Linked DNA regions of Homo sapiens. The protein of the gene in region 1 purifies or fractionates together with the protein of each later gene. This does not show direct contact. Each region holds a gene or a part of one and is shown in the gene's direction. Other genes may lie near its edges.

Region 1 (2,420 bases):
TTGTCAATCAAAATTATTCTGTATTGCAACTTTTCTCAGAGATTGCAAAGGATTTTTTAGGTAGAGATTATTTTTCCTTATGAAAAATGATCTGTTTTAAATGAGATAAAATAGGAGAAGTTCCTGGCTTAACCTGTTCTTACATATTAAAGAAAAGTTACTTACTGTATTTATGAAATACTCAGCTTAGGCATTTTTACTTTAACCCCTAAATTGATTTTGTAAATGCCACAAATGCATAGAATTGTTACCAACCTCCAAAGGGCTCTTTAAAATCATATTTTTTATTCATTTGAGGATGTCTTATAAAGACTGAAGGCAAAGGTCAGATTGCTTACGGGTGTTATTTTTATAAGTTGTTGAATTCCTTAATTTAAAAAAGCTCATTATTTTTTGCACACTCACAATATTCTCTCTCAGAAATCAATGGCATTTGAACCACCAAAAAGAAATAAAGGGCTGAGTGCGGTGGCTCACGCCTGTAATCCCAGCACTTTGGGGAGCCCAGGCGGGCAGATTGCTTGAACCCAGGAGTTCAAGACCAGCCTGGGCAGCATGGTGAAACCCTGTATCTACAAAAAATACAAAAATTAGCCAGGCATGGTGGTGGGTGCCTGTAGTTCCAGCTACTTGGGAGGCTGAGGTGGGAAAATGACTTGAGCCCAGGAGGAGGAGGCTGCAGTGAGCTAAGATTGCACCACTGCACTCCAACCTGGGCGACAAGAGTGAAACTGTGTCTCTCAAAAAAAAAAAAAAACAAACAAAAACAAAAACAAAACAAAACAAAACAAAACAAAACAGGTAAGGATTCCCCTGTTTTCCTCTCTTTAATTTTAAAGTTATCAGTTCCGTAAAGTCTCTGTAACCAAACATACTGAAGACAGCAACAGAAGTCACGTTCAGGGACTGGCTCACACCTGTAATCCCAGCACTTTGGGAGATGGAGGTAAAAGGATCTCTTGAGCCCAGGAGTTCAAGACCAGCTTGGGCAACATAGCAAGACTCCATCTCTTAAAAAATAAAAATAGTAACATTAGCCAGGTGTAGCAGCACACATCTGCAGCAGCTACTCAGGAGGCTGAGGTGGAAAGATCGCTTGTGCACAGAAGTTCGAGGCTGCAGTGAGCTATATGATCATGTCACTGCACTCCAGCCTGTGTGACCGAGCAAGACCCTATCTCAAAAAAATTAATTAATTAATTAATTAATTAATTTAAAAAGGAAGTCATGTTCATTTACTTTCCACTTCAGTGTGTATCGTGTAGTATTTTGGAGGTTGGAAAGTGAAACGTAGGAATCCTGAAGATTTTTTCCACTTCTAGTTTGCAGTGCTCAGTGCACAATATACATTTTGCTGAATGAATAAACAGAAATAGGGAAGTAAACCTACAAATATTTTAGGGAGAAGCTCACTTCTTCCTTTTCTCAGGAAACCAAGCAAGCAAACATATCGTTCCAATTTTAAAACCCAGTGACCAAAGCCTTTGGAACTATGAATTTGCAACTGTCATAGGTTTATGGATATTGCTGTGGAGAAGCTCAATTTTCAGTGTTTGAACTGAACCCTTTCTTGTTAGGGAACGTGTGAAAGAAGAATTGTGGGGAAAAAAAAGCAAGCATAACCAAAGATCATCAGCAGTGAAGAATCTAGGCTGTGGCTGAGAGAACCAGAGGCCTCTAAAATGGACCCGAGTCGATCTTCAGAACAGGGATCTACCATGCAGGAGCTTCTTGTGCTCACACAAATCTGTAAATGGGAACATTGTACATTGTCGAATTTAAATGATATTAATTTTCTCAAGCTATTTTTGTTACTATTTTCCTAAAATTGAATATTTGCAGGGAGCACTTATACTTTTTCCTAATGTCTGTATAACAAATTTCTATGCAAGTACATGAATAAATTATGCTCACAGCTCAGTTTTGTATAATGTGCCATTTATAGCCATCATGTATATGAACAATCACAGGCATAAGTAGGTATCGCTTATGTTGCACGTGCTAGAATCCTTATTCCTTTCTTACACTTGGTAATAGCACCAGATGTATAGTTGAGTAAACCCTTTTCAATTTCAGATTGGCAGGCCCATCCCCTTGGGTATCCTCTCAACTATCCATTATTCTTTCAACTCCTGGATGAGAATGAATAACTGAGGACAGTTGTTCAGGACATGCTCCTAACACTTTGAGATCAATATCCCAAGAGCCACTTCTATGCATTCCCAGACAGGCCCTGGGCACCACCATCAGGGCTGACCCTGGGCCACAGCATGCCTCAGGGGTCAGCTCTCTAGGACCAGCCACTTGTCAGAATGTTATCCCCTGAGGCTGAAGCCACAGCCATGCTTGTCTCTTCCACAGAAGCACTTCTCTTCCACACCCTTTCACCACAGTTGGCAGATTTGAAAGAAAATATGGTA
Region 2 (3,500 bases), about 14 Mb from region 1:
AATGTCCCCAGTGGCCAGGCAATCCATGCTCGTCATTGAGCCGCACTGCCCTGCTCTCTGTTATGTAGCATCTCTCCGCCCTACTCAGATACTTTCCCCAGGACCTAAGCTTAACATGTCTACAATCTGTCTTCTGGAAATTGCATCTTTCTAGCCACTCAGACTGAAAACGTTGGCACCCTCTGACTCCTTCCCTATTATCCCCACACAGGGCATTGCCAAGGATTTTTGTCCCCATAAAGACTCCTACTTCTACCTGTCTATCTCATTGCCATTCCCCTGATACTGTTCCTCATTCCATCTCCCTGACTTAGTAATTTAATCTCTGAACTGTCTCCTGCCTTTTATCTTGCACAGTACTGCCAAAAAATCTTCAGAATCACTAGCGACATAGTCTCCCTAATCAGAAGCTGGCAACGACTCTCCACTCCTTATAAGATCAGTGAAGAGCCTCAGCTCAACGCTTTGTCCTTATTTTCTACTTGCCACCATCGTATAGTTCTAGGTGCCAAACTGCACTACTTCTCATTTTTTGTCCAAATATCTCCATGTTCTGGCACATGGAGTCCCTCATCTGTGCGTTTTCCTTCCTCCTGTATGCACAGAAACAGATTATCTTCCATTTCCAAGGCCAAGCCCATTGCTATCTCCTTGCTAAACCTCTCCTGATTTCCCCGCAAGGAAGTAATCTTGCCTTTTCTGAGTTCCCCAGAACTATTTTTATAGCCGTCAGTTATACAATTAAGGTTTCCTACCTCATAGTAGTTTGATCCTCCTATTAAACTGTAAGCTTCTTCAGAGCAAGATCTTTGTATCTTTTATCTATAAACTAGCTAAATGCCTTGGGCACGGACGTATTCTTTAAAAATGTGAGTTAAAGTATCTTTCTGTGTTTAGAAAAGCTGGAATAATGATATGGATTTCATGTGTTTAAGAGAATTATTTAATGCCCAGATAGGTTAAGTAGTAATTTTTTTTTCTTTTTTTTTTTTTTTCTTTTTTTTGAGATGGAGTCTCTCTCTTTCACCAGGCTGGAGTGCAGTGGTGCAGTCTCGGCTCACTGCAGCTTCCGCCTCCCAGGTTCCAGCGATTCTCCTGCCTCAACCTCCCGAGTAGCTGGGACTACAGGTGCACGCCACCACGCCCATCTAATTTTTGTATTTTTAGTAGAGACAGAGTTTCACCATGTTGGCCAGAATGGTCTTGGTCTCTTGACCTGGCCCGCCTCAGCCTCCCAAAGTGCTGGGATTACAGGCGTGAGCCACCGCACCTGGCCGAGTAGTAAATTTTTGTTTAAATTTTATGCATTTAGCAGTCACAAATTGGGCGTCTACTATATGACCAACAGTCTTCTAAGGACATGTGAACTGCCCCCTGCAATCCTGGAGCTTACAGTGGAGAAAGGAGTATAAGGACAAGAACTTGACATTTTTTGAATATCCGCTGTGTGCCAGTCACTGGATTTAATGAAAGTTAATAATGGGTGAAACTGAATCAAACCCAGGTTCACCTGGCACCAAATGCCTGTCTGTCAACCCAGAGGCATCATCGTGAATTCCCCTTACAGCAGTTTGCTACAGTGAGTCATCAATAAGGTCCGAACTTCTGGAACTAGATAATTAATTTCACTGCAAATTAGAATCATTCTAGAAAGGAAAAAAACAAGAAATGTAAATTAAGATTTACCTCATTTCAGAGATATAATCCTGCAAAACTGTACATATAACTTTCTAAAGCCCTTGATTTTCACTCTTTTCAATTTTGCTGATCCACTTATTTGAGACCAATGAAACGCCTGCTTCCCACTTTAGACCTTGGAATTGCCTGTCGGTTAATTTCTGGTAGTTCCTGCAGTTTGCCTTACTGACAGGCCAGTGCCATCTAATGGTAAAAAAGGACAGTCTGAAGCTCTTGGTTTTCTTAAACTGCCCAGTGAAAAGAAATCATTTTCTTCATTTTACTTTTCAGTTCAGGAATATATTGCAGCAAAAGAGTGGAGACAACCTATAATTTTTGTTTATCAAATTTTGTGAAGTCTGTTATACAGCTTTATTTATATTTTGCCTAATTCCAAAAGCATTTGTGGCCATTACAGAAAACACCTACCAATAAAAGAGTAAAATATTTTTTACATGTCTAGTCATTTAATAAATGCTATTTTGAATTGAAATTGTATTTTAGTTAGTTTGCTTGTTTGAGCAATCCAACGACTTCAAGGAAAAGAAAAAGTATCGTTTTGCTTTTTTGTTTTTTCTTTTTTTTTAATTATACTTTAAGTTCTGGGGTACATGTGCAGAACGTGCAGGTTTGTTACATAGGTTTACACATGCCATTGTGGTTTGCTGCACCCATCAACTCGTCATCTGTATTAGGTATTTCTCCTAGTACTATCCCTCCCCTACCCCCACAGCCTCAACAGGCCGCAGTGTGTGACGTTCCCCTCCCTGTGTCCATGTGTTCTCGTTGTTCAACTCCCCACTTATAAGTGAGAACATGTGGTGTTTGGTTTTCTGTTCTTGTGTTAGTTTGCTGAGAATGATGGTTTCCAGCTTCATCCATGTCCCTGCAAAGGACATGAGCTCATCCTTTTTTATGGCTGCATAGTATTCCATGGTGTATATGTACCACATTTTCTTTATCCAGTCTATCATTGATGGGCATTTGGGTTGGTTCCAAGTTTTTGCTGTTGTGAATAGTGCCTCAATAAACATATGTGTGCATGTGTCTTTATAGTAGAATGATTTATAATCTTATGGGTATATACCCAGTAATGGGATTGCTGAGTCAAATGGTATTTCTGGTTCTAGATCCTTGATGAATCGCCACACTGTCTTCCACAATGGTTGAACTAATTTACAGTCCCACCAACAGTGTAAAAGCATTCCTATTTCTCCATATCCTCTCCAGCATCTGTTGTTTCCTGGCTTTTTAATGATCGCCATTCTAACTGGTGTGAGATGGTATCTCATTGTGGTTTTGATTTGCATTCCCCTAATGACCAGTGATGATGAGCTTTTTTTCATGTTTGTTGGCTGCATAAATGTCTTCTTTTGAGAAGTGTCTGTTCATATCCTTCACCCACCTTTTGATAGGGCTGAGTGTTTTTTTCTTGTAAATTTGTTTAAGTTCCTTGTAGATTCTGGATATTAGCCCTTTGTCAGATGGATAGATTGCAAAAATTTTCTCCCATTCTGTAGGTTGCCTGTTCACTCTGATGATGGTTTCTTTTGCTGTGCAGAAGCTCTTTAGTTTAATTAGATCCCATTTGTCAATTTTGGCTTTTGTTGCCATTGCTTTAGGTGTTTTAGTCATGAAGTCTTTGCCAATGCCTATATCCTGAATGGTATTGCCTAGGTTTTCTTCTAGGATTTTTATGGTTTTAGGTCTTACATTTAAGTCTTTAATCCATCATGAGTTAATTTTTGTATAAAGTGTAAGGAAGGGGTCCAGTTTCAGTTTTCTGCATGTGGCTAGCCAGTTTTCCCAACACCATAAAATGG
Region 3 (3,174 bases), on another chromosome or scaffold:
AGATAGTTTATGTCTCCTGGATGCTAGTTTAGCCCCGTAAGACCACTGTGTCTTCTAGTAAAAGGTCTGAGTCGCACCTGTGGGGCCTGAGATTGGGACGAGAAGCCTTGAAGGCCTTAGTCCCACCAGACCTCCCACATCCACCCCCGCCCCTCCCTTCTCCACGGAAGCCGCCCTGCGGCTGGGTTCACGCATGCGGTCTTTGTCCTGGTCAATCAGACAGAATTATACACCCGGATGCCTGTGCTTCCTGAGGACCAAGATGTAGCGGACGAGAGGACCCGCATCCTGGCCCCCAGTCCGGACTCCCTGCTCCACACACCTCTGATTATCAAGGAGCTCTCCAAGGTACCCTTGCAATTTGGGGTGGAGTCCTTCCTGCCAGCTGACTACCTGGCTGTCCCCAGGGTCCGACCCCATCCCTGGAAGCTTTCGGCGCTGAGGCTCAGACTGCTCTGCTTTGCGTCCAGGCCTCCGCATTCCGTGTTTTCTGTTGGGTGCCTGCAGGTGTACGAGCAGCGGGTGCCCCTCCTGGCCGTGGACAGGCTCTCCCTCGCGGTGCAGAAAGGGGAGTGCTTCGGCCTGCTGGGCTTCAATGGAGCCGGGAAGACCACGACTTTCAAAATGCTGACCGGGGAGGAGAGCCTCACTTCTGGGGATGCCTTTGTCGGGGGTCACAGAATCAGCTCTGATGTCGGAAAGGTGGGTGCAGCCAGGGAGGCTCTGAAGGGGTGAGACAGGCATGGCTGGAGGGGGCACCCTGGAGGCAGGGACAGAGGGATGCTGTCCCCAAACAGCTGCTGCATCTGTGGCTTGAAATGGGCCCAGCACATGCCTCTGGACAGCGAGACAAGGTAATGAGCTAAAGCTAAGCTTCGCCAGAACTAGCAGGTGATGGGAGGGGAGAGAGATGGGTGCCAACATCCGTGAGCCCAGAGAGGCGCATTCAGCACTGACAGCCACCTCTGTGCAGAGGCCATTCTGTGTCCAGGCAGCTCAGGTGTGGGGTTAGAGGCCTTGCTGAGTGAAGGGATGGAAGGCCCTGGGCCCGCCCAGCTTTCCCATGTTGAGCTGAGCCCCACCAGCTCCCCCGCAGAAGGACCAGAGGCAGCCCTCCTGCACCTCTGCCCGGGGCCTGCATGGGAATTCAAGTGTGCCAAGCAGAGCAGGGGAAATGGTAAGCAGGGCCTGGGGCTGAGAAGTGGCCGCGGAGTCCTCTCCTGAGCTCACACCAGGGGTGCCTGGACAGCAGAGGCCCTGGGCCAGAGCACATGCAGGCCCTCTCGGGAGGAAAGCCTCATCCTAGGCTGCAGACTCCCCCATAGAGGGTTCCAGGGCTTACAGGCAATGCACAGCAAACAAACAGAGGAGATGGTACCATGGCTGGAAGCAATAGACACAGGCCCCATGGGGGGACAAGCACATAGGCGTTAGATCTGCATCATCAGGCCAGATTATAAAAGATTATAAACTCACTGTGTCTACAGAAATAAATTATGCAATTGAAAATCTATGCAGGGGAGAGAAAACCGTATGTGATCTAGCAATGGAGGAGAGGGTGAGAAGTCCCCAGTACATGTAATCTGAGTTCCAGAAGGAAGAGAGAGAGAGAGTGGCAGGGGGTAGTAGCCAAAAAGGTAGTGGCTAAGACTTTCCCCAAACTGATTAAAAACAGATTCTGGGCTGGGAGCGTGGCTCACGCCTATAATCCCAGCTTTGGAAGGCCAAGGCAGGCAGATCACTTGAGGTCTAGAGTTCGAGACCAGCCTGGCCAACATGGCAAAATGCTGTCTCTACCAAAGAAAAATACAAAAATTAGCAGGGCATGGTGGCAGGTGCCTATAATCCTAGCTACTCGGGAGCCTGAGGCATGAGAATCACTTGAGCCTGGGAGGCAGAGGTTGTAGTGAGCCGAGATCATGCCACTGCGCTCTACCAGTGTAAGGGAGACAGAGTAAGACTCTGTCTCAAAAAAAAAAAAAAAAATTCTGGAAGCTTGAGAACCCCAAAGAAGGAAGGTAAAGAAAAAGAAATCCAGTCTCTGGAATCCACAGAACCCAGGCACTCCTGCCCCCGACCAGCTGCTGAAGGTAGCTAAGCAGATGGCAGCAGGCACGTCTTAATTCAGCTGGACGTGGTCACTTGTGCAGAGAACAGCTGCTGCACCATCTGACCAAGCAGTACTCACCCCAAACGTGGTGCCCACAAATCTTTCTTCTTAGAGGGAGAAGAAAGAGTCCTAGCACATCAGATGTCCCAGGTGTGAATGAGTGGGTAGCCAGCTCTGAGTCTGCTTCTACGTAAAGGCCATTCTTGCACCACCTAACCCCATGGCTGCCTGTCCTGGACCAGGCTCTGAGAGCAGCTCTGGAAGCCTCCCTGCACCAGGCACATCCTTCCTGTGTCCCTGTTCCAAGAGCTTCCACTGTGGGCAGCCACCACGGCCTGTGCATAGCTCCAGCGCCCCCGTGTACACACACTGGCAGGAACCACAGACAGGCGCAGTGGTGGGCACCTCAAGGGTAGTCCCCGTGGTCCTCTGGAGGAAGGAGGCTTCCCTCCAACCCGCCTCCCTCCCCGGCTATGCTCCGACCCCAGGTGCGGCAGCGGATCGGCTACTGCCCGCAGTTTGATGCCTTGCTGGACCACATGACAGGCCGGGAGATGCTGGTCATGTACGCTCGGCTCCGGGGCATCCCTGAGCGCCACATCGGGGCCTGCGTGGAGAACACTCTGCGGGGCCTGCTGCTGGAGCCACATGCCAACAAGCTGGTCAGGACGTACAGGTGCACCTCCCGAGCCCTGGCCCTTCCCAGAGTGGAGTCAGAATCAAGGTCCCCATAGCATAGAGCTGGGAGTGACCGCTCAGGTCAGCAGCCAGAGCTCCTGCTTGTGGCTCCAGGATGGAGCTGGGATGTGGTGGTGTGACCCAGGTAGCTCCACGTAGGAAAGGGACTGCCCTGACAGTGCCTGCCACCTAGGGACAAAGCCAGCAGTGAGAGATGTCAGGGTCGGCAGGTCCCCTTTAGGTGCAGGCAGATGTCTTCCCATGTAGGTGCGTGCACCGGGCCCCTGGGAACAGCCTTCTCTGGGGCCTCCAGCCCTATGCGGTGGGCTTTCCAGGTGCACACACAGCTCCTTCCTCTTCACTAGGGCTGTTCTGCAATTGCTGGG
Region 4 (3,500 bases), on another chromosome or scaffold:
ATTTTACCTGTATATGAAATTCTAGGTTCAAAATTATTTTCTTTCAGCACTTTGAAGCTATTACTGAATTGTACATCCAGTGTCGCTGTTAAGAAATGTGATGTTATTCCCATGCTTGAGTCTTTGTAGGTGATCTACTTGGCTTCCTGGAAACTTTAGCATTTCTTCTATATTTGATCTCCTAGGAATTCCCTCAAAATATCCTGTAATATTTCTTTTCCTTTTTTTTTGAGACTGTCTCACTCCATAGCTCATGCTGGAGTACAGTGGTGCAATGATGGTTCACTGTAGCCTCAAATTCCTGAGCTCAAGAAATAGTTATGTCTCCACCTCCCAAGTAACGGGGACTACAGGCACGTGCCACCACGCCTGGCAAACTTTTAAATTATTTGTAGAGACAGGGTCTTGCTGTATTTCCCAGGCTGGTCTCAAACTCCTGGGCTCAAGCGATCCTTCTGTCTTGGCCTCCCAAAGTGCTGGGATCACAGGTGTGAGCCACTGCACCCACGCAGCTGCTTGCTTGCTTGCTTTTTTTTTTGAGATGGAGTTTTGCTCTTGTTGCCCAGGCTGGAGTGCAATGGCACAATCTCAGCTCACCGCAACCTCCACCTACCAGGTTCAAGTGATTCTTCTGCCTCAGCCTCGCGAGTAGCGCTTGCCTCACCATGCCCAGCTACTTTTGTATTTTTAGTAGAGATGGGGTTTCTCCGTGTTGTCAGGCTGGTCTTGAACTCCTGACCTTAGGTGATCCGCCCGCCTTGGCCTCCCAAAGTGCTGGGATTACAGGCGTGAGCCACCACGCCTGGCCAACTGCTTTATTTCTTAACTTTTCTCTCATTCATTTCATTTCTTGTCTTTCCTGGTGCATTCTGAGTTTCTCAACGCAGTTTTTGCTCATTAATCTTTTATTTAGCTGTATGTATTTCAATTAACCTCATTCACTTAATTTTTATTTGAGCAATTGTATTTTTCATAACAAATTGCCTCAATTGGTTCTTCCTCAAAACGACTTTTTTTTTTTTTGAGACAGAGTCTCGCTGTGTCACCCAGGCTGGAGTGCAGTGGCATGATCTCATCTCACTGCAGCCTCCACTTTGCAGGTTCAAATGATTCTACTGCCTCAGCCTCCTGAGTAGCTGGGATTACAGGCATGTGCCACCATGCCCAGCTAATTTTTTTCTATTTTTAGTAGAGACAGGTTTCACCATATTGGCTAGGCTGGTCTCGAACTCCTGACCTCAAGTGATCTGCCTACCTTGGCCTCCCAAAAAGTGCTGTGATTACAGGCTGTGAGTCACTGCCCCTGGCTAAAACAACTTTTCAATATTATCCTTATCTTTCTGAGCAAATCCATGTTTAATTTCAGTTATTCTGCTCCTTCTGGTACAGACTGTTCTGTTTATCAGGGTGCCTGTGTTCCTCCAATCTCTGGTGAGTTTTATGCGTGCACTCACCTTTTATTCCCTTGGGACTCTCAATTGCATTGGCTGGTAATGTGTAACTACGAGGAGGACGGAAGCCTGATCCGTAGTTTTTCTTTCTTTTTTTTTTTTTTTTTTGAGATGGAGTCTCGCTCTGTCACCCAGGCTCGAGTGCAGTGGCACGATCTTGGCTCACTGCAAGCTCTGCCTCCTGGGTTCACGCCATTCTCCTGCCTCAGCCTCCCAAGTAGCTGGGACTACAGGCACCCGCCACCACGCTCAGCTAATTTTTTTGTATTTTTAGTGGAGGCGGGTGAAAACCGTGTTAGCCAGGATGGTCTCAATCTCCTGACCTCGTGATCGGCCCACCTCGGCCTCCCACAGTGCTGGGATTACAGGCGTGAGCCACCGCGCCCGGCCAGTTTTCCTTTCTGTAAATGAATTTAGGAGGTTGAGGTTAGCCTCAGGGTTCAGCCTCTCCCTTTTGCTCTCTGCTGTCCTCTCTGGCTCCAGGGAACCTCCTAGCACCAACTGTATGGACTCTGCCTTTATCTGAGAGCAGCCATCCCAAGAAGTTCTAGGATGCCAAACTCATGGAGTTGATGGGGCGTGGTTCTGGAGCAACTGTTTATTCCCCCATCCAGCCTGGCTCTGGCCATTACCCACAGGGGTCAAAGGTCAAGCAGTTAAATCTCTTGGGCATTGTGTATAGACAGGAGTAGATGCTGCTAGAAAACCCCCTTTCCTTGGCCGAGTGCGATGGCTCACGCCTGTAATCCCAGCACTTTGGGAGGCTGAGGCGGGCGGATTGAGACCATCCTGGAGCCAGGAGATCGAGACCATCCTGGCTAACATGGTGAAACCCCATCTCTACTAAAAAATACAAAAAATTAGCTGGGCATGGTAGTGGGCGCCTGTAGTCCCAGCTACTCGGGAGGCTGAGGCAAGAGAATGGCGTGAACCTGGGAGGTGGAGCTTGCAGTGAGCCGAGATTGTGCCATGGCACTCCAGCCTGGGTGACAGAGCAAGACTCTGTCTCAAAAAACAAACAAAAAATTGAGTTATTAACAAAAATTACGTTACTAATATAATGCATCTACCGGAAATGTATAAAAAGTGTGAACTGGTAAATTTGAGGCTACTCAGATTTAAACTTTTGGCTTTTGGGATGCTCTCATTTTCATATGCTTGGATTTACTCTGGGCTTTTTTTTTTTTGAGTTAGGGTCTAACTGTGTTGCCCAGGTTGGAGTGCACAGTCATAGCTCACTGCAGCCTCAAACTTTCAGGCTCAAGCGATCCTCCCACCTCAGCCTTCTCAGTAGCTGGGACCACCAGCCTATGCCACCATACATGGCTCATTTTTTATTTTTTTGTAGAGATGGGGTCTTACTATGTTGCCCAGGCTGGTCTCAAACTCCTGGGCTCAAGGGATCCTCCCACCTCCGCCTCCTCAAGTGCTGGGATTACAGGCATGAGCCACTGTGCCTGGCCCTTGGGCTTTCTTGTTGCAAGCTGGTGCTTACCTGCCCACTGTGGTTGCCCTGCACTTATAACCTACATCTTTCTTGAAACAAATGTTATAGGTAAAAATAAACATGGGGTGATCATTTTGTTTTTTGGGTTTTTTTGTTTGTTTCTTTTTGAGATGGAGTTTCGCTCTTTCGCCCAGGCTGTTATGAAGTGGCAGAATCTTGGCTCACTGCAACTTCCACCCCCCAGGTTCAAGCGATTCTCCTGTCTCAGCCTCCAGAGTAGCTGGGATTACAGGCACATGCCACCATGCCAGGCTCATTTTTGTATTTTTATTTATTTATTTATTTATTTATTTTATTTTTTGTTTTATTTTATGTTTTTTTAGATGGAGTCTCGCACTGTAGCCCAGGCTGGAGTGCAGTAGTGCCATCTTGGTTCACTGCAACCTCCACCTCAAGCAATTCTCCTGCCTCAGCCTCCCAAGTAGCTGGGATTACAGGCACATGCCACCACACTCGGCTGATTTTTGTATTTTTAGTAGAGATAGGGTTTCACAATGTTGGCCAGGCTGATCTTGAACTCCTGACCTCAGGTGATCCATGCG

What was found. Proteins that work in one complex are often made in the same cells at the same time.
Region 2: the proteins of SLC14A1 (region 1) and DSG2 purify together in Homo sapiens (affinity purification with mass spectrometry; one large-scale study listed by BioGRID and IntAct). This does not show direct contact.
Region 3: the proteins of SLC14A1 (region 1) and ABCA3 purify together in Homo sapiens (affinity purification with mass spectrometry; one large-scale study listed by BioGRID and IntAct). This does not show direct contact.
Region 4: the proteins of SLC14A1 (region 1) and BCL7B purify together in Homo sapiens (affinity purification with mass spectrometry; one large-scale study listed by BioGRID and IntAct). This does not show direct contact.

What each region holds. Positions count from the first base shown.
Region 1 is NC_000018.10:45,750,601-45,753,020, forward strand, and holds the end of SLC14A1 (urea transporter 1), read left to right. Parts: 3' UTR 1-1,577; coding exon of another isoform or gene 1,578-1,622; 3' UTR 1,623-1,920; downstream 1,921-2,420. UniProt on the Homo sapiens protein: Mediates the transport of urea driven by a concentration gradient across the cell membrane of erythrocytes.
Region 2 is NC_000018.10:31,504,677-31,508,176, forward strand, and holds part of DSG2 (desmoglein-2 preproprotein), read left to right. Parts: intron 1-3,500.
Region 3 is NC_000016.10:2,278,555-2,281,728, reverse strand, and holds part of ABCA3 (phospholipid-transporting ATPase ABCA3), read left to right. Parts: intron 1-219; coding exon 220-348; intron 349-507; coding exon 508-702; intron 703-2,598; coding exon 2,599-2,786; intron 2,787-3,174. UniProt on the Homo sapiens protein: Catalyzes the ATP-dependent transport of phospholipids such as phosphatidylcholine and phosphoglycerol from the cytoplasm into the lumen side of lamellar bodies, in turn participates in the lamellar bodies biogenesis and homeostasis of pulmonary surfactant.
Region 4 is NC_000007.14:73,544,191-73,547,690, reverse strand, and holds part of BCL7B (B-cell CLL/lymphoma 7 protein family member B), read left to right. Parts: intron 1-3,500. UniProt on the Homo sapiens protein: Positive regulator of apoptosis. Plays a role in the Wnt signaling pathway, negatively regulating the expression of Wnt signaling components CTNNB1 and HMGA1.